Linked DNA regions of Homo sapiens. The protein of the gene in region 1 purifies or fractionates together with the protein of each later gene. This does not show direct contact. Each region holds a gene or a part of one and is shown on either strand. Other genes may lie near its edges.

Region 1 (9,018 bases):
AACTATCTCCTAAATGGAAATTATTCTCTAAGCATAGAAATAGTGGAAGAAAACACAAAGAAAAAGTAAATTTATTTGACTACATCATTCAACAAATATTTATTGAGCATACTTTATGTACCAGGCACCAGGAAGCACATAAAATAAAATACATTATATGTTTTTTTCTAAATCATGTATGGAATTTAAAAGCAAATAATCAATGGGAAAAGATGTTTTTAGTAATTACAGCAATGTATTAAAATCCTTAATAAATACATAGCTCAGATAAACTGATAGAAAAAGTGCTAAAATTCTAGTAAATCAATGAGGAAGGAATACAAACTGACAATTCAAGAAAAGAACAAAAATCAAATGCTTCATACAAACTTGTTGGGTTTTTTGTTTTTTTTCTTTTCTATTTTTGATGATGAATATTTTTTATTATTATTATACTTTAAGTTCTGGGATACATGTGCAGAACGTGCAGGTTTGTTACATAGGTATACATGTGCCATAGTGGTTTGCTGCACCCATTAACCATCTACATTAGGTATTTCTCCTAATGCTATCCCTCCCCGTGCCACCCACCCCCCTAACAGGCCCAGGTGTGTGATGTTCCCCTCCCTGTGCCCATATGTTCTCATTGTTCAACTCCCACTTACGAGTGAGAACATGAGGTGTTTGGTTTTCTGCTCCTGTGTTAGTTTGCTGAGAATGGTTGTTTCTAGCTTCATCCATGTCCCTGCAAAGGACATGAACTCATATTCGTTTTTTTCAAAAAGGCTCAAACTCAGTAATTAAAGAGATGCAAGTTAAAACAAGTAATCATATACATATATAACTTACCAAATTCACAATGTAGACTAGGATGTAAAGAGATAAGAACTTTCAAACACTGCTGTTAGGATAAAATTCATAGAAAGCAATATGGTTGTGTATAAAAAAAGATTTTTTAAAACTTCACAGTTTTTGACAACTTAATTTCACTCCTAGGAATCTATCCTAAAAGAGTCATCAGAAATGCTGACAAAGAGTTATATGTAAGATGTTCATCATAACATTGCCTTTTATTCAAAAAAATGGGGGAAGGTACAATCTAACTATATAAAAATAAGTGAATAATAGCACTTCTATATAATGAAATACTAACACACTCATATTAAATGATGTTTACAAGAGCTTTGGTGAAACTAATACAATTAAGTGAAAAGAGCAAAACATCAAACTATATTATCCTTTAATTATGTAAAAAAATACATACAGATAATTGATAAGAAGGAAGTATGCCAAATATTTTGTCTAGGGCTTAAAATTGTGAGCAATTTGTTCAAATTCTCTCCAAATTTTCTATTATGAACACCAAAAGGTGAAATTAAAAATTAGGGATATATGTGGTAATATTTTTGAAGAAAAAATTAATAGATGTGTCAATTATTTTTCTCACTAGTATATTCATTTTATTTCTTCCTAATTCCTAGCTATAATATTTTCTATTGTTATTTATGCCACCATTTTTGCCTAATTACCATAGACAGTGTTATAAAAAGTGGTGGAAATGTTTTCTCCAATGGCAGTAAAATAATATAAGCTCTTGGAAACTTACAACCTGAAATGACACTGCCAGGGCCGTATTTAAACCTGAATGCAGGGATGATTTCCCCTAGGAAGTCAGCAAAAATTCAGCTCCATTTTAAAGGTGATTAAACAAAGTTTACCAACCCCATTATTGTTAAACAGAATCAGACCTGGACTTATCTGGTAGAGATACATTGATATGTTTCAATAAAGCCTATTGCCATAAATGAGAAAGTCATATTTTCCTCTGCAGACCCCCATTCATTTTTTGGCAGATACGGCTAAAATAGTAGTCTGCTCAGAGCCCAGAAAACTTACCAGGAAGTGAAAAATCCTATCTTCCAGGTGTTTTAAAACACATCAGTATTTATTTCACACAGAAGAAGTGTGTAGATTTACAATTTCACTCCTCTCATTCAGTATTCTGCCTAGGTAGAGATAGTCTTAGTTTATCCTTTAAAATTAACTTTTTCTATTTTCAAAAAAGTGTCACTGTCACCATTTCAGCCAAGAAAGAAAATTTAATTCCTTATTATCTGAATAACATTTTTCCCTATTTTGAAACTCTGCATGAAAACATTTGCATAGGGAAACTGGGGGGGGAATTGCCATAGATGAAAAATAGATAACTTTAATCAACAATTTTTTTATTTTTCCATCTTCAATCTATGTTTTTGGTGGTATTCTAACACATGTATATGTATTGTCGGGGGAAGGTTAGACAAATGTCATAAATTGAACATCTGAAAATCAAACCAATAGAGCTTTTTAAGAATAAAAGGATACAATTTGACCTAGCAATCCCATTACTGGGTATATACCCAAAGGAATATAAACCATTCTACTATAAAAGCACATGCACACATATGTTTATTGCAGCACGATTTATAATAGCAGAGATGTGGAACCAACCCAAATGCCCATCAATGATAGACTGGATAAAATGTGGTACATATACACCATAGAATACTATGCAGCCATAAAAAGGAATGAGATCATATCCTTTGCAGGAACATGGATGAAGCTAGAAGCCATCATCCTCAGCAAACTAACACAGAAACAGAAAACTATACACCACATGTTCTCACTCATAAGTGGGAGCTGAACAATGAGAACACATGGACACAGGGAGGGGAACAACATATACTGGGGCCTGTCGGGGGTCGGGGGGGTGAGGGGAGGGAACCTAGATGATGGGTCAATAGGTGCAGCAAACCACCATGGCACATGTATACCTATGTAACAAACCTGCACGTTCTGCACATGTATCCTAGAACTTAAAGTAAAATAAATTTTTTAAATGAAATAAATTTTTAAAATGAGGATTAAAAAGCCTGCCTGTTGGTTGAAATAAAAGTAAGATAGACTCTGTCTATGGAAACAGTGGTAGAATCATTCCTGAATTATTCCAACAACAGTTTTCAACCTAATTGGTCAATCTATGCCCACCAGCAGAAACCAGTGTCACTTCTAACTGTTCCCTTCCCTCCTTTTAGAATTGGCCTTGTAACAACTCAAGGGACACACTGCCATCAACATTCCTTCACTGTAGATCATGTAACTGTTGCTTACCCTCTTATTTTAGGCTTTCTGGCTCATGCTTCACTAGAAACACTGATCACAGAACCTAAAGTAAGGTGTGCAGTGAAGGGGAGTGTTGCCTCCATTCAAATTAGAGGTAGTTCTTCCCTATTTGCTTTCTGTGTTTGCTGGGAATAATGCAGTGGGAGCAGAGGCTGGGTGCACCCAAGATAACAAAATGTCCAGACACAGAGGCTCGTTTCCTGGAGAACCTGTAAAGACCTATAAAGGTTAAAGATTGGAGTATGTATGTGGGGGGGGAGTGTGGGGGTGTGTGGGGGTGTGTGTGGGTGTGTGTGTATGTTTCAGGGCCTTGAGGTCCAGATTTTGGAGAGTGTCATTAAAATGTCTCCGGAGGGCTGGGCACAGTGGCTCACGCCTGCAATCCTGGCACTTTGGGAGGCCGAGGCAGGCAGATCATTTGAGGTCAGGAGTTCGAGGCCAGCCTGACCAACATGGTGAAACCCCATCTCTACTAAAATACAAAAATTAGCTGGGTGTGGTGGCAGGCGCCTGTAATCTCAGCTAGTCAGGAGGCTGAGGCAGGAGAATCGCTTGAACCCAGGAGGTGGAGGTTGCAGTGAGCCAAGATTGCGCCACTGCACTCCAGCCTGGGCGACAGAGTGAGACTCCCTCTCAAAATAAATAAATAAATAAATAAAAACAAAATATATCTGGAAGCCAGGCACAGTGAGTCACGCCTGTAATCCCAGCACTTTGGGAAGCCAAGATAAGCAGATCACTTGAGCTCAGGAATTCGAGCCCAGCGTAAGCAACATGGTGAAACCCTGTCTCTACTAAAAACATAAAAATTAGCCGGGTGTGGTGGTATGCATGTATAGTTCCAAATACTCTGGAGGCTGAGGCATGAGAATTGCTTGAACCCAGGAGGCAGAATTTGCAGTGACCCCGATGACAACACTGCACTCCAGTCTGGGCAACAGAGCAAGACTCCATCTCAAAAAATTTTTAAAAAGTCTCTGGATTCAGAGGCCAGACATACCTGGCCCCCATATCCGTCAACCAATTCTCTAGCAAAATTTAGTTGTATAGACAAAACATAACACCTGATGTCTTCAGCCAAGTCTCTCTACTGTGATTATACAATTCCTAATATTTTGACCAATTCTAGTGAAAACTTTTCTGCAAAATGTAGAAGATAGTGTATGAGATCTGAAAAGGCTCTGGAGTGTTCTAGTTTAGATCTCACATGTTGTGGATGAAGAACCTGTGACCTACAAGGGCTTAGGAGTTTGCCCCCAACCTGCCCAGCACACGACAAGTTAGGGGCAGCATCAGGAGCAGATCCTAAGCCTCTCCGTGACCAGGCCAAGGACTTCAGCCCAGCTAACCCTGGTCCCTCCTCTGGCCTTTGTGGGACCTCCTGTGTCAGCCACAGAGTCCTCATGTGGTTCTTGTGGCACGAGTGAAAGCATGACATGGAAATCAACGGGGTCCCTGGCTTCCTCTCATCCCAGTTCCAATGCTTATGGACCAAGAGCATAGATCTAGGATTTGGCTTCGTGTTCTCAAAAGTGGGGACAATTTTGCCTGCCCCTGCTGCTCCATATGGAAACAGAGAAAGAGCGCTGGACTGGAAGCTGAGGTGGGAGCCCCACCCCTGCCGTTTTTAGAGTATCTGTGGTTCCAGGCACTGGGACAAGTCCCTTAACTTATCTGTACTTTTCTTGACTCACCCCCAAAAAATGGGGATAATAGTGCCTGCCCTACCCATTTCTGTAAGATCAAAATGGAAAGATGTAAGTGAAAAAAGTCGTTCATGAGTTGTGAGGAGAAAATGTGAAAAGTCTGGTTTAAGACAGAGCACGGTGGGTGCTTCCCAGGGGCCATCTTAAGCGAGGTCAGCCAAAGTGGTCTGCAGTCACGTTCCCCGTGGTGGGGACACGTCAGCCTTTTCTCCAGATGGCGGCGCTCTCCGGAGGAGCCGGAGCTGGAGGGAGGCCGGTCTGGCCCGGAGCAGGGAGTCCTTCTGCTCCCTGGCACGGCTCTGCGCTGAACCCACCCGGCCTGCGGAGAGCAGACAAGTGCCTCTTGGGCCCGCTTCTCTAACAAATGTAAAAATAATGCCCTTGAACCAGGAGCGAAACTGAGCTATCTAAGGAAAACACTGTGAGCAAATACTGAGAGCCTAGGGAAACCATCTGATTAGAAGAGCTCCCCTCAGGAGCGCGTTAGCTTCACACCTTCGGCAGCAGGAGGGCGGCAGCTTCTCGCAGGCGGCAGGGCGGGCGGCCAGGATCATGTCCACCACCACATGCCAAGTGGTGGCGTTCCTCCTGTCCATCCTGGGGCTGGCCGGCTGCATCGCGGCCACCGGGATGGACATGTGGAGCACCCAGGACCTGTACGACAACCCCGTCACCTCCGTGTTCCAGTACGAAGGGCTCTGGAGGAGCTGCGTGAGGCAGAGTTCAGGCTTCACCGAATGCAGGCCCTATTTCACCATCCTGGGACTTCCAGGTAGGCACCGTGCACCCCGGGGTAGAGCCAGGTGAACCAGGTGAGCAGGGAAGGGGGCGTTTGCGTTAAGCCCCACTCCCACCTCTGGGTGAGGACCCTGGCAGCTCTGGCTCAGAATGAAAGGTGTGAATAAAAGGAGAAGCTGGCTCGTGTCTAATAGGGCAACAGTCATGCAGGAGAAAATGGGAGGGTTAATACTCAAGGCGAAGGAATCGCTAGTGAGGAGGCAGGCCTCAAGAAGAATGGGTCTATTGTAAGGGTATGTTCATGATACCTGGAATAAACTCGTGTTTCTCAAGGAGAAAATAAATTGTGTGCATTACTTGCATGTGGCTTGCTCCTGCCTGCACATACATGGGAGCAGGGAAGCAGGATGCTGAGTATTTTGTTATATCTGGAAAAGTTTATTGAGAGCTAATTTAATTTTCTTTCCATTTCAATTAAATTTTTCAAAGTTGGAGTCTCTGTGGGTGCCAAAAAGAATATTGCCATTAAATTATAAATATCCTTTTGCTGCATTTGTATTAAGAATATCTTGTATACTGTCCTAAAAATCAATGTATATCAAAATATAATTACAGAATTATAATTATATTATGTCAGAATATAAATATAATTATAAATGTGACATCCTTTCACCCCTAAAGATGAAATAAATTAAACCCCTGCTTTTAATATAGATAATTACTTCAAATATGCATCATAGCAACTTTGCATTCTGAATAATATGGGAGCTCTATTTGTATTTTTAAAATGCAAACAAGAAAATAATAGCTCTAGCTAATTAGTGGCTCTAAGGGGTGGCCAAGATGTGAGTGTGATGGAGAAAGGAGAACAATGTCTCTGAAACAAATACCTTTTATAAACAAGTAGATGGAAATAAATTTGCAAGAAATTGTGAAGAGGCTGTAGAGCCCTTGAAACTGAATTGAATTGTGAAAAGCAATTCAACTAATCCAAGTTCATTTTCAGAAAGAAATAGAAGATGGGTGTCAGAGTAGAAGAATTTGATTATTTATTCCATTTTTTGGAAGCCACTTATTGCAGGACCAACAGGATGACTGACTCCGGGGAAAGACCTGCTTAGGGAAGCAAGGGAGGTAGAACCTGGCCAAAAGAAAGAGAACCAGACTGAGGAGGGATTATGCTGTAGTGGGAGGGGAGAGGTGAGATGCAGGAAATGCCACACAGAGTGTTGAGTTGCTAGTTATGTCTAATTTTAACTATCATATAAAGAAAAAATATTGTCCTCATATTCAAAATTAAGGCATGATGTCTTATGACTTCATGTTCAATAACCTCTCCCCAGGGCCCCACTACATATTATCAATCTCTTGCTCACTGTGTATCACAGTCTCCATACATGGGGCTCCTGAATATTCCCACTCTCCTAAATGGGCAAACCCCATTGCGTCCACTGTGACTTGTCACTCCTATTCTGTCAACGGATCTTATCTCCATGACACCCTCTCAGAATAGCTCCACCTCTCCCCCTTGATGGAACAAGATTATCTTCCCTGCTTTCCTGCTAAGGTCAACCTCTCCTGCTAAGGTCAACCTCCCCAGCAGGGCTCTGAAGGCCTCATGCCACCTGTCTGGGATCATGCCCTGTTGGTCAGCCCCTCTCCTCCTTGCCTCTTTCATCTCTTCTCCTCACTTATGCATATGGCCTCCTTCCTGGGGAAATCTGTTGATCCTGATCATTGTCAAGTTCTGTCTCTCTCCTGGGTCACTGACAAACCAAATTAAAAGACTAAGTTTTTCCACTACCTCTCACCCTTAACCTTTCTCAGTCTGGTTTCTATCCTTCATCTCTATAGAATGTTTGCTTTTTTGACCATAGCAGAGGATGAAGGGGAGTATTTCAGTCACCAACTCCTAGTTCTCAGTTCTCATCTCCTTAGACATTTCAAAACCCAAACAACTTCCACGGTTCCCCATTCCCAGCTTAACTAGGTGCACACATAACAGCCTGACACCAAGCCTTCCTAACCCCTCACCTACCTTCCTTGGCAGTCTCTTACTCCCCCATCCTGTTTCTTCTGTCCTTTCAGTATACCTTGGACTTGGTCCTGGACATCCATTGCTCCTGCTCCCCTGAATTCCCCCCTCCACCACCCCAACTGTCCTCTCACAAATCTTCCTCCAAACCTCCTCAAGCCCCCAAATTGAATAAAGATTCCACAAGTCTCTGTACCAAACCCAGAGCATTCTCATAGCATTGAGCATATTCACCCCGCGTGACACTGCTCTCAAATCTGAGAAGCATTTATTGCATACCTACAAAGAGTACACAACACAAAACTGGCCTTGTCGGCACCGTAAATTCCAGCAGAGGGGACAGGCATGTGTGTGAATATCAAAGCAAAGGCAACACATGTCATGGGGCTTTGACACAAGTGTTTGGAGCCCAGGAAGAAAGTGGTTATTCAGTAGGAAGAGTCAGGAGGGGAGGAAATCAGGACAGTTTTGCTAAGGGAGTTCTGTTTGAGTCTGAACTTTAGCTTACTAACTTGGTTATTTGTACATTTGTGTCATTCAGCTTCTATGTGGTGTTTCCCTTCAGCTGGATAAGAATTATTTCCCCATTTCCCAGAAAAGCGCCTGGTAGAGTGAGTATTTAGCAAAGGATTGATAAACTAAGTTGAATTAAATAGTACGAATAGTTCATTTTAAGTGTTTATGCAAGCCATTGAACTAAAAACAGGTTAAGGTCTTCCCCAAAAAGGACAGTAAATCATTTTTGTACTATAAATTTTTTGTTATTATGGCTCCATATATAGAAAAGGACCTGGTCCTCCTCCTGCCTGGAACAGATTCATTTGTTCATCCAATCATGTATTTAACAAATATCTCTTGCATGCCTACTGTGTTGCAGAGACTAGAGTTCAGGAACTCTATTAGTCAGAGTAGTTAATGTCTGCTGCTGCAACAAACAAACCTAAACATCTCAATGGCTTGACACAACAAAAGTTTACTTCCTGCCCACATAAAGTCCACTGTGGGAAGAGCAGCCTCCTTGTAGCTACACTCTTCAAAGTTGCTGGGGCAAGAGAAGAAAGGCTTGAAGGAGGCACAACAGTTCTTAACTGCTTCAATCTGAAAGGAACACATGTCACTCACAGTGCGTTGGCCACAACTAGCCATATGGCCCCAGGAGCTGGGAGATGTAGGAGCACATAGCTATTGGGTGAGCACCTACTGTCTCTACCACAGGGAGCATTTGAGTAGTAACTTCCTGGGCTGCAACACATCAACCACACTAATTTCAGTTCTGCCAGACAGATAATTCCCTGAACATCAAATAGTCAAAACCAATGAGATTGCAAAAGAAGATATACCATTAATTTATATTTAAACAAATATGATAGAATTATATGTGTAAACTATCATCTGACA
Region 2 (9,514 bases), on another chromosome or scaffold:
GGGATAATAATGGTAATCTCACATGATTATCCTGATGATTAAATGAAGAGAACTTTGAACTAGAGATAAAAAGTTAAGATTCATCAGCAAATAAAAGGTATTTAAACCATGGGAATTGATGAGACAACTAAAGAGAAAAAGTTGAGAGAGAAAAGAAGATCCCAGCCCTCCTTCCAAATGTTTCCCACTCATTAGTTCATTCAACAATTATTTTTGAGTGTCTAAGATCTGCACGTCACTGAATGCATGGGTACACCAAAGAGACATGGAAAAAGCCTATAGTCTCCTCAGAGAGACAGGTAGCACACAAATATATATTTAACTACAAACTATAATAATTGCTTTAAAGGAAAAGTTTCAGCACTCTGAGAGAATTTAATGAAGACCTAATTCAGATTAAATAAAATCATGTATATAAAGCACTTAGCATACTGTCTGAAACCTAGTAAGCACTTTGTTCAGGGAAGGCCTCCCTAAGAAAGTGGCAATTATGCTGACACCAAAAATTTAGTAGGAGTTAGCTACGAAAGAGTAGGGGGAAAGAGCATTACAAGCAGAACATCAACACACAAGAAGGCCCTGGGGCAGGAAAGAGCCTGCGGCACTCCAGGAGCTGAAAGGAGACCTGTGCAGCTAAAGCATATGACAGGTAGTAAATGACAATACCATCTACCTGACACCCCACAAGTAGAAATCTCCCTCTCCTCCATGTGATTAAAATGACTTCAAGAACCATACAACATTACTTGGACATATTGTATGATGGTTAAAAAAAACCACACAATAACTCTGTACATTATATTAAAATATTAATGATGCAGATAAATTGTATCTACCTAAAAATGAGCCTGCAATTCCTCTTTTCAACCTCCTCTTTCACAGTCACCCTTCTTCCACTACTGAAAGGGAAGATGGACCCTTCACCCAGCCGGAGACTCATTTTGGTGCCTTGCCCCATGGATAACAATTCAAGAATACATCCTTTCCAAGAGTGAGACCTATGACAACAAATCCAAGAAAAATTCAGCAAGAAATATTAAAGCAGCTAGCATCACGCTGACATTCAGTTTTCTTATAAATGGAAGGTTTGAAATTTAACTTAAAATTTAGATGTGAAATGTTATCAGAGGTGCATTAATAAGTGCAATAATAAGAATACAAATATCTCATTATTTTAAATGGGCAAAATATTTGAATAGACGTTTCAATGAAGAAGATACACAGATGAAAAATAAGCCCATAGATGTCCTACATTATTCATCATTAGGAAAATGCCAATTAAAACCACAATAAAATACTTACACACATCTAGTTACAATGGCTAAAACATAAAAGATTGACCATACCGAAGGCTGGCAAGGATATGGAGGAACTGAAATCCTTATGCACTGCTGGTAAAATGATACAACAACTTTGGAAAAGTTTGGCAGTTTCTTAAACAGTTAAACATACATCTACCACATGATCCAACCATTCCACTCTTAGATATTTACCCAAGAGAAATGAAGGCATACATCCATACAAAGACTTGTACTCACAGCAGCTATATTTGTAATTCACAAAAACTGGAAATAAGCCAAATGGTCATCCATGGGTGAATAGAAAAATTGTGGTACATCCATACAATGGAATACTACTCAGCAATTTTAAAAAATAAATTCTCGACATAAGCAAAACATGGATGAATCTCAAAATAGTTATAGTGAATTAAAAAAATCCAGACCACAAAAAGTACATACTATATAATTCCATTTATATAAAACTCTAGAAAATGGAAATTAATCTACAGTGACAGAAAGTACTGTACGATAGAAGGGAGGATTTACAAAAGGGCATGAGCAAATTTGTGGGTAATATTTTGTGGCTCATTATCTTGATTATGGTGATGTTTGCATGAGTGTAAACTTGTATGAAAACATCCAATTGTATACTTTAAATATGTTCAGTTTATGTCAACTATCTCTTTTTTTTTTTTTTTTTTTTTTTTGAGACGGAGTCTCATTCTGTCACCCAGGCTGGAGTGCAGTGGTGCAATCCTGGCTCACTGCAACTTCCGCCTCCCGGGTTCAAGCAATTCTCCTGCCTCAGCCTCCCGAGTAGCCGGGATTACAGGTGCACGCCACCATGCCCAGCTAATTTTTGTATTTTTAGTAAAGACGGGGTTTCATCATGTTGGTCAGGCTGGTCTCGAACTCCTGACCTTGTGATCCGCCTGCCACAGCCTCCTAAAGTGTTGGGATTACAGGCATGAGCCACTGCCTCTGGCTTTTTTTTTTTTTTTTTTTTTGAGATGGAGTTTCGTTCTTGTTGCCCAGGCTGGAGTACAATGGCGCGATCTCGGCTCTCTGCAACCTCCACCTGACAGGTTCAAGCGATTCTCCTGCCTCAGCCTCTCAAGTAGCTGGGATTACAGGCATGCGCCACCACACCTGGCTAACTTTTTTTTTTTTTTTTTTTTTGAGACTCAGTCTTACTCTGTCGCCCAGGCTGGAGTGCAGTGGCGCGATCTTGGCTCACTGCAAGCTCCGCCTCCCACGTTCACGCCATTCTCCTGCCTCAGACTCCCGAGTAGCTGGGACTACAGGCGCCCGCCACCACGCCCGGTTAATTTTTGGTATTTTTAGTAGAGACAGGGTTTCACCGTGTTAGCCAGGACGGTCTCAATCTTCTGACCTCGTGATCTGCCCGCTGCAGCCTCACAAAGTGCTGGGATTATAGGAGTGAGCCACTGCGCCCGGCCTTAATTTTTGTATTTTTAGCAGAGACGGGGTTTCACCATGTTGGCCTGGCTGGTCTCAAACTCCTGACCTCAGGTGATCCACCCACCTCAGCCTCCCAAAGTGCTGGAATTACAGGTATGAGCCACGGTGCCCATCCTATGGCAACTACACCTCAATAAAGCTGTCTACAAAATTAAAGAATGGTGAGAAGACTATTAAGTTTCATACCATTGGCTTATTCGAAGCCTAGTTCTATCAAGATTGAACATTTGTTCCTTGCCTAAACCATACAAGCTTCAAACTCCTTCACTTCCATAGCCTATCAATCCTATTTCTAGACTGTAACCTGCCCTTCCTCTTCCAAATCTGACCAGACATTTTATATGTGCTGTCAACACGAATATCCCAGAGTAAGCCATGCAAGAGTGTGGATGACTTAACTAAATGCACTGCCGCTACTTGAAAAATTTAGAGTTAAAATTTAATGAAGTTTAAACTCAGTGTAACTGACCTCTAATTGCCCTAAGTCTAAGGTCTTTTAAGAAGCTGATAGGTGCCGAGTGCAGTGGCTCATGCTGGTAATCCCAGCACTTTGGGAGGCAGGCAGATCACTTGAGGTCAGGAGTTCAAGACCAGCCTGGCCAACAGGGTGAAACCCCGTCTCTACCAAAAATATAAAAATTAGCCAGATGTGGTGGCACGCGCCTGTAATCCCACCTACTCGGGAGGTTGAGGCAGGGAGAATCGCTTGAACCCTGGAGGCAGAGGTTGCAGTGAGCCAAGATCATGCCACTGCACTTCCAGCCTGGGCAACAGAGTGAGACTCCATCTCAAAAAAACAAAAGGAAGCTGTTAGGTGAGCTATTGGTACATTAATCATATAGACAATCTTAGCAGGGTTGAAGTCTATAGGTATTGATTGATTTGACTACACTGTAAATTGTAAATAGATGCAATTTTAAGTTACCTGAATAAACTTTTCTATTCATTAACAGTAGTCATCTCAATTTTAGAGATTTACGTTATGCTCGTGCCTCCATCTGCACGCACAACATGGGAAGACAACAGACACCAAAGATACTTTGGATTCTTGCTGCTAAGTAAGTATTCAAGCACTACGTGCACGTTGTTACAATTAATAAGGCAATCTGACCCCATCCCTGCCACCAGGAAACTGCAATACTATTAATATATTAAAAAGGAAGACAACTGAGATAAAGGGAATGTGGGAGGTTGGGGGGGGTGCTTAGGAGATATCAGAATACAACCTCTTAGAATTACAGAATCTCAACAACCATCCTTTATGCCTGATCTTCGGTTCAGTAGCTCTAGGATTCCAAGGGGCCCCTCCTAACTGCATTGCCTTCTCTCCCCAATTCCCTTTCTCTCAGAATGTTACACCTTCCCCCAGTTAATAGTGTAGGCTTAAAATGTATCTAGGTGTTCTTACCTACTGACAAACTGCTGGAGTTGTTCATGGGAAAGGAATCAAGGCAAAATATCTAATGCATTCAGGTCATTCGAGTTTTCTTTTTAATTTATTGCTTTTTTGAGATGGGGCATCAGTATGTTGCCCAGGCTGAAGTGCAATAGCAGTATCTCTGCGAGACTCTGTCTCAAAAAAAACCCATTAGAGTCTTCACCTTAGGATGGACTAGGGCTATGGCATACTGGTAAGCATTTAAAAATAAAGGGGTATGATGGCCCGGATTTGCATTATCTGAGTAATGGGAATACTCCAACCCAGTCCGATTTCAAGGTCCCAGTGAGGTTACTGAATTCGAAGCTCAGAAGGTATGCGCCTAGTATTCCCACCATACGAATACAAGCGAGGTAAGTAACCTCAAAAGCATCGATAACAGTAAAATAGTTACAATACCTGTTACGCCTTTAGTATCCATTACCTTCGTTTAATTTAACTGTCAGTTTACATAACAAAAGAGTCTTTTAAGGCGTAAGCGCGCTCCTGGGGAGGGTATGGGGCTGTTGGCAGGGAAAGCAGCTTTTCGATCGTATAAATGCTCTTTGTGCCCAGACTGCCCTCTATAAATCAGCACTATCAACCCTGTCCAGAGACTTGCCCATGACCTCCAAGAAAACACTTTATTCATACTACTCCTAGCGTGCGCTCCTACCCGCCCCAGGGACTTCAGTCTTCCGGGGGAGGGATAACTACTTGGGGACACGGAGCACTGCGTACGCCCTGGGTCATGTGGGAAGGATGACCGCAAAGCCTCCAGTCGGCGCGCGGGTTCCGGGGCTGAGGGGCTGAGGGGCCCAAGGCGATAACCGGGATCCGCTCCGGCCGCGCTCCTCTTGCCTTTGAGAAGCCCCGGAAGTGGCCCGGCTGTTGGCCGCAGCGGGAGGTCTTCGGAAAGAAAAGGCCGGAACCAGAAGATAGACTCAACAGCGATGCCCTACCCGGACCCCGCCGGCCTCACACCCCGGCCAGCCAGCCGCCAGTAGTGCGCACCGCCTCCTCCCCAAGCCCCGCCCTGCGTCCACCCCAGGGGTTAACTCGCACGCGCGCTCTTGTGGCGGAGGTAGAGTGCGCCGTCCAGGGCTAGAGCAAGCGCGGCCCCGCGGCCCGGAGCCATGCTGAGGAGCTGCGCCGCGCGCCTCCGCACGCTGGGGGCTCTGTGCCTGCCGCCAGTAGGCCGGCGCCTGCCGGGAAGCGAGCCGCGACCCGAGCTGGTGAGTCTGGGCACCCTCGGGCATGGGGCGGGAGCAGGACTCAGAAACACGCCTGCGGTAACAGAGCCTTCGATTGTTATCCATACCCCAACCAGCCAATCTCAGAATAAAAGCTCACCTGGGCACCACAGGGCAGCATAAGCAACAGGGGCCTAGGAATACAGTCCTGAGATTCAAACCGTTAGAAAAGGGATGGAAAGGTGACCCCGTTTTTTTGTTTTTTAAGAGACAGGGTCGGCAGGGCGCTACCTGAACTGCATAATTTAGTCTGTCTATTTATATTTTGACAACATCTGTATTTTACCAATAATATTTGAGGCTGTTTTTATTTTTCAAAGATTAAAGTGACGTGAACTAAAAGATACCACAGCTTTTATCTTCCCTTTAAAAAAATATTTGATCCAAACGCTTATCTTCCTTTAGGTCAATTAATTAGAGATCTTTTTATAGACATCACACACAACACATATATAACTACACAGACAGGCAGAAGAAAACCCAGTTGCCATAAGATCTTTCATCACAGGGAGAGGGATCTATCTGCTTTTAATTCCTGGGGTTCCATGAGGAAAACAGAGATCGCCCCTCTTATGCAGGCATTAAAAGTGGCAAGGCAAAATGGAGAAAAATAACTCAGTCGACCGCAAAGAAACACTTTTTCCAGCAAAATAAGGTCCAAGAAAAGGAAAACATAAAGGCCTTATAAATATAATTACAACTTAGATATCTACTTTTAATTAAGCTGAGCACTCCTTAAGAAAATTCTTTTAACACCCTTATTATCTAACTTTAGCTCCACCAAGCGGCCAATATTTCTGGCTTTCAAACTTTACTTAAAGGCTCAGAGAAAGGAAAATCCAAGGTGGTTGGTGGAGGGCAGGGGAATCGACAAATAGCGAAAGGGCATACAGATACCAAACCAGAAAGGACTCATTCCCTAAGCCAGGATGAATCTGGGCCATGCCGGGCTAAACGAAGCTATGCAATGGGGTTACAGGCCACGCCCCCAAGGACGTAAAACAAGATGGAGGCCTGCAGCGAAGTTTGCTGTGGAGCATACAGAAAGACATGCAAAACACACAGATTGGCTACAGCTTACGACTTACCTCACAAATCCTTTCGCACAAAACTTTACAGAAAATATAAACGGTAATCCTCATCATTCCCAAAAGAGCAAAACGTCTTCCAAAAGGAAAAGAAAAACCTCCTTTAAAAGTATACTGCTGATGGGTTGGAGAGGAGATAAGGATGCCTGGGGGAAGAACCTCTTATTCCTATGCAAATGGTTCCTCCACCAGAGAGAGGAGCTTAATTGCTGTGGGACAGAGCTAGACTCCCTGGAATGGGGAGGGGGAGACTGCAGGCACCTGGTAGGGAACGCCAGCCAGCCATGCCGGCGCCTTGGAGCCTGGGCAGTGGCTGTGGCTCATTTATGCCCTGTGTGGCTACTGGACACCACACACACATGCTGCAGACACCACCATGCACCCCAGCCAGTAAAGAAGTGGGGCCAGGGAGCTACCCCACCCAACTGTCTTGTGAGTGCACTGGTGACCATTGGGGTGGGTGTGGACCACCTCCAGTATCGTAAAAAGAAAAATAGGTGCCGTTGCTGTCCCCCCAAAAAGAAGAGGAATGCCATAAGACCAAAAGGCTCAGAAATGAAAGTGAGAGGTTTTGAGTCCCCATTTCACTCATCCTTCTGTTGCAGGAATGAAGGAGGACTGGAGAGGCCATGGGGTGAGACAGGAGAACTTTATTGAGTGCACTCAGACCCAGCGGACTAACATCCAAAAGCTGGGCCCAGAACAAAGACAGCACTTGACTTTAATACACACTTTTAAAAGGGGGTGGGCTAGCTTGAAACAAGCTTACAGTGGCGTGAAGCATAGTGGCGTGAAAGCAAGGATACAGAGGCAGCACAAAGGCAATTAATTCATCAAATTGTGACAGGTGCATAATTCAGGATTACATACTGTGTCGGAATTGATGGGTTCTTGGTCTCACTGACTTCAAGAAAGAAGCCACGGACCCTCGTGGTGAGTGTTATAGTTCTTAAAGGCGGCATGTCCGGCGTTTGTTCCTTCTGATGTTCGGATGTGTTCAGAGTTTCTTCCTTCTGGTGGGTTCATGGTCTTGCTGGCTCAAGAGTGAAATTGCGGACCTTCGTGGTGAGTGTTATAGCTCTTAAGGCAGCACGTCTGGAGTTGTTCGTTCCTCCCGGTGGGTTTGTGGTCTCGTTGGCTTCAGGAGTGAAGCTGCAGACCTTCGCGGTGAGTGTTACAGCTCATAAAGGCAGTGTGGACCCAAAGAGTGAGCAGCAGCAAGATTTATTGCAAAGAGCGAAAGAACAAAGCTTCCACAGTGTGGAAGGGGACCCGAGCGGGTTGCCACTGCTGGCTTGGGCAGCCTGCTTTTATTCTCTTATCTGGCCCCACCCACATCCTGCTGATTGGTAGAGCCAAGTGGTCTGTTTTGACAGGGCCCTGATTGGTGCATTTACAATCCCTGAGCTAGACACAAAGGTTCTCCACGTCCACACCAGATTAGCTAGATACAGAGTGTCAACACAAAGGTTCTCCCAGTCCCCACCAGAGTAGCTAGATACAGAGTGTCGATTGGTGCATTCACAACCCCTGAGCTAGACATAGGGTGCTGATTGGTGTGTTTATAAACCTTGAGCTAGATACAGAGTGCCGATTGGTGTATTTACAGTCCTTTAGCTAGACATAAAGGTTCTCCAAGTTCCCACTAGACTCAGGAGCCCAGCTGGCTTCACCCAGTGGATCTCGCACTGGGGCTGCAGGTGGAACTGCCTGCCAGTCCCACGCTGTGTGCCCACACTCCTCAGCCCTTGGGTGCTCGATGGGACTGGGCGCCGTGGAGCAGGGGGCAGCACTCATCAGGGAGGCTCGGGCCGTGCAGGAGCCCACGGAGGGCGTGGGAGGCTCAGGCATGGCAGGCTGCAGGTCCCGAGCCCTGCCCCGCCAGAAGGCAGGTAAGGCCCAGTGAGAAATCGAGCGCAGCGCCAGTGGGCCGGCACTGCTGGGGGACCCAGTACACCCTCTGCAGCCACTGGCCCGGGTGCTAAGCCCCTCATTGCGTGGGGCCGGCAGGGCCGGCTGGCTGCTCCGAGTGCAGGGCCCGCCAAGCCCACACCCACCTGGAACTCCAGCTGGTCCACAAGCACCCCGCGCAGCCCTGGTTCCTGCTCGCGCCTCTCCCTCCACACCTTCCTGCAAGCTGAGGGAGCCGGCTCTGGCCTTGGCCAGCCCAGAAAGGCGCTCCCACAGTGCAGCAGTGGGCTGAAGGGCTCCTGAAGTGCCGCCAAAGTGGGAGCCCAGGCAGAGGAGGCGCCGAGAGGGAGCGAGGGCTGTGAGGACTTCCAGCACACTGTCACCTCTCACTATGACCCTTGCTTATGCAGCCCAGGTGGCTGTTATCTAGGCTTGCTCAAAAGAGCCTTGCAAGTGCTTATCTCATAATCTTCACTATGGTGCCCAGACGGCCGCAGCCTAGGCCTACTCAGGCATGTCTTATAACCTTCACTGTGCTGTTTAGATAAAACAGAATACTTGAAGTTACTAGTTACAGAAAACAGGAATCTATAAACTCATAAAACTTGCAGAGCAAGGTACAATCACACGGAAGGGGATGGGATTCAAGGGGGAACTTTACTTTTTCTTATCCTTTTGTTGAGGGAGTGCTGGAAGAGTCTCCAGAGCACATCCTTTGAGCCCTGGTTTCTTTGAGAATGTTATCAAGACTACACCCGGGTCAGGGCTTTGCCTGTTACTGCCTTTGGGATGAGTCAGCCTCATATAGAAAGCTTGTTTTTCACTTTTTAAATTTTATTTTGCTTTCTTCAATTTCCTGCCTCACTTCCTCAGGCCCCATATTTGAGCGCCAAACACAGTTAGGGTGAGAGTGAGACTCTGTCTCAAAAAAAAAAAGGACTTTCTTCTCAATTCATCTAAGTTCTTGTCACACAATCAGGAAAGATCAGTCTTGTGGACACAGAAGGGTGAGAATAATGGAATTTATTGGGCAAAAAAGGAAAAAGAGAAAAACCTCAGCAGAGGAAGAGGGAGCTGCTCCTA

The links.
Region 2: the proteins of CLDN18 (region 1) and THEM4 purify together in Homo sapiens (affinity purification with mass spectrometry; 2 studies listed by BioGRID and IntAct, with this or other methods). This does not show direct contact.

What each region holds. Positions count from the first base shown.
Region 1 is NC_000003.12:138,004,827-138,013,844, forward strand, and holds the start of CLDN18 (claudin-18), read left to right. Parts: upstream 1-5,338; 5' UTR 5,339-5,399; coding exon 5,400-5,619; intron 5,620-9,018. UniProt on the Homo sapiens protein: Involved in alveolar fluid homeostasis via regulation of alveolar epithelial tight junction composition and therefore ion transport and solute permeability, potentially via downstream regulation of the actin cytoskeleton organization and beta-2-adrenergic signaling.
Region 2 is NC_000001.11:151,905,260-151,914,773, reverse strand, and holds the start of THEM4 (acyl-coenzyme A thioesterase THEM4), read left to right. Parts: upstream 1-5,262; 5' UTR 5,263-5,315; coding exon 5,316-5,414; intron 5,415-9,514. UniProt on the Homo sapiens protein: Has acyl-CoA thioesterase activity towards medium and long-chain (C14 to C18) fatty acyl-CoA substrates, and probably plays a role in mitochondrial fatty acid metabolism. Plays a role in the apoptotic process, possibly via its regulation of AKT1 activity.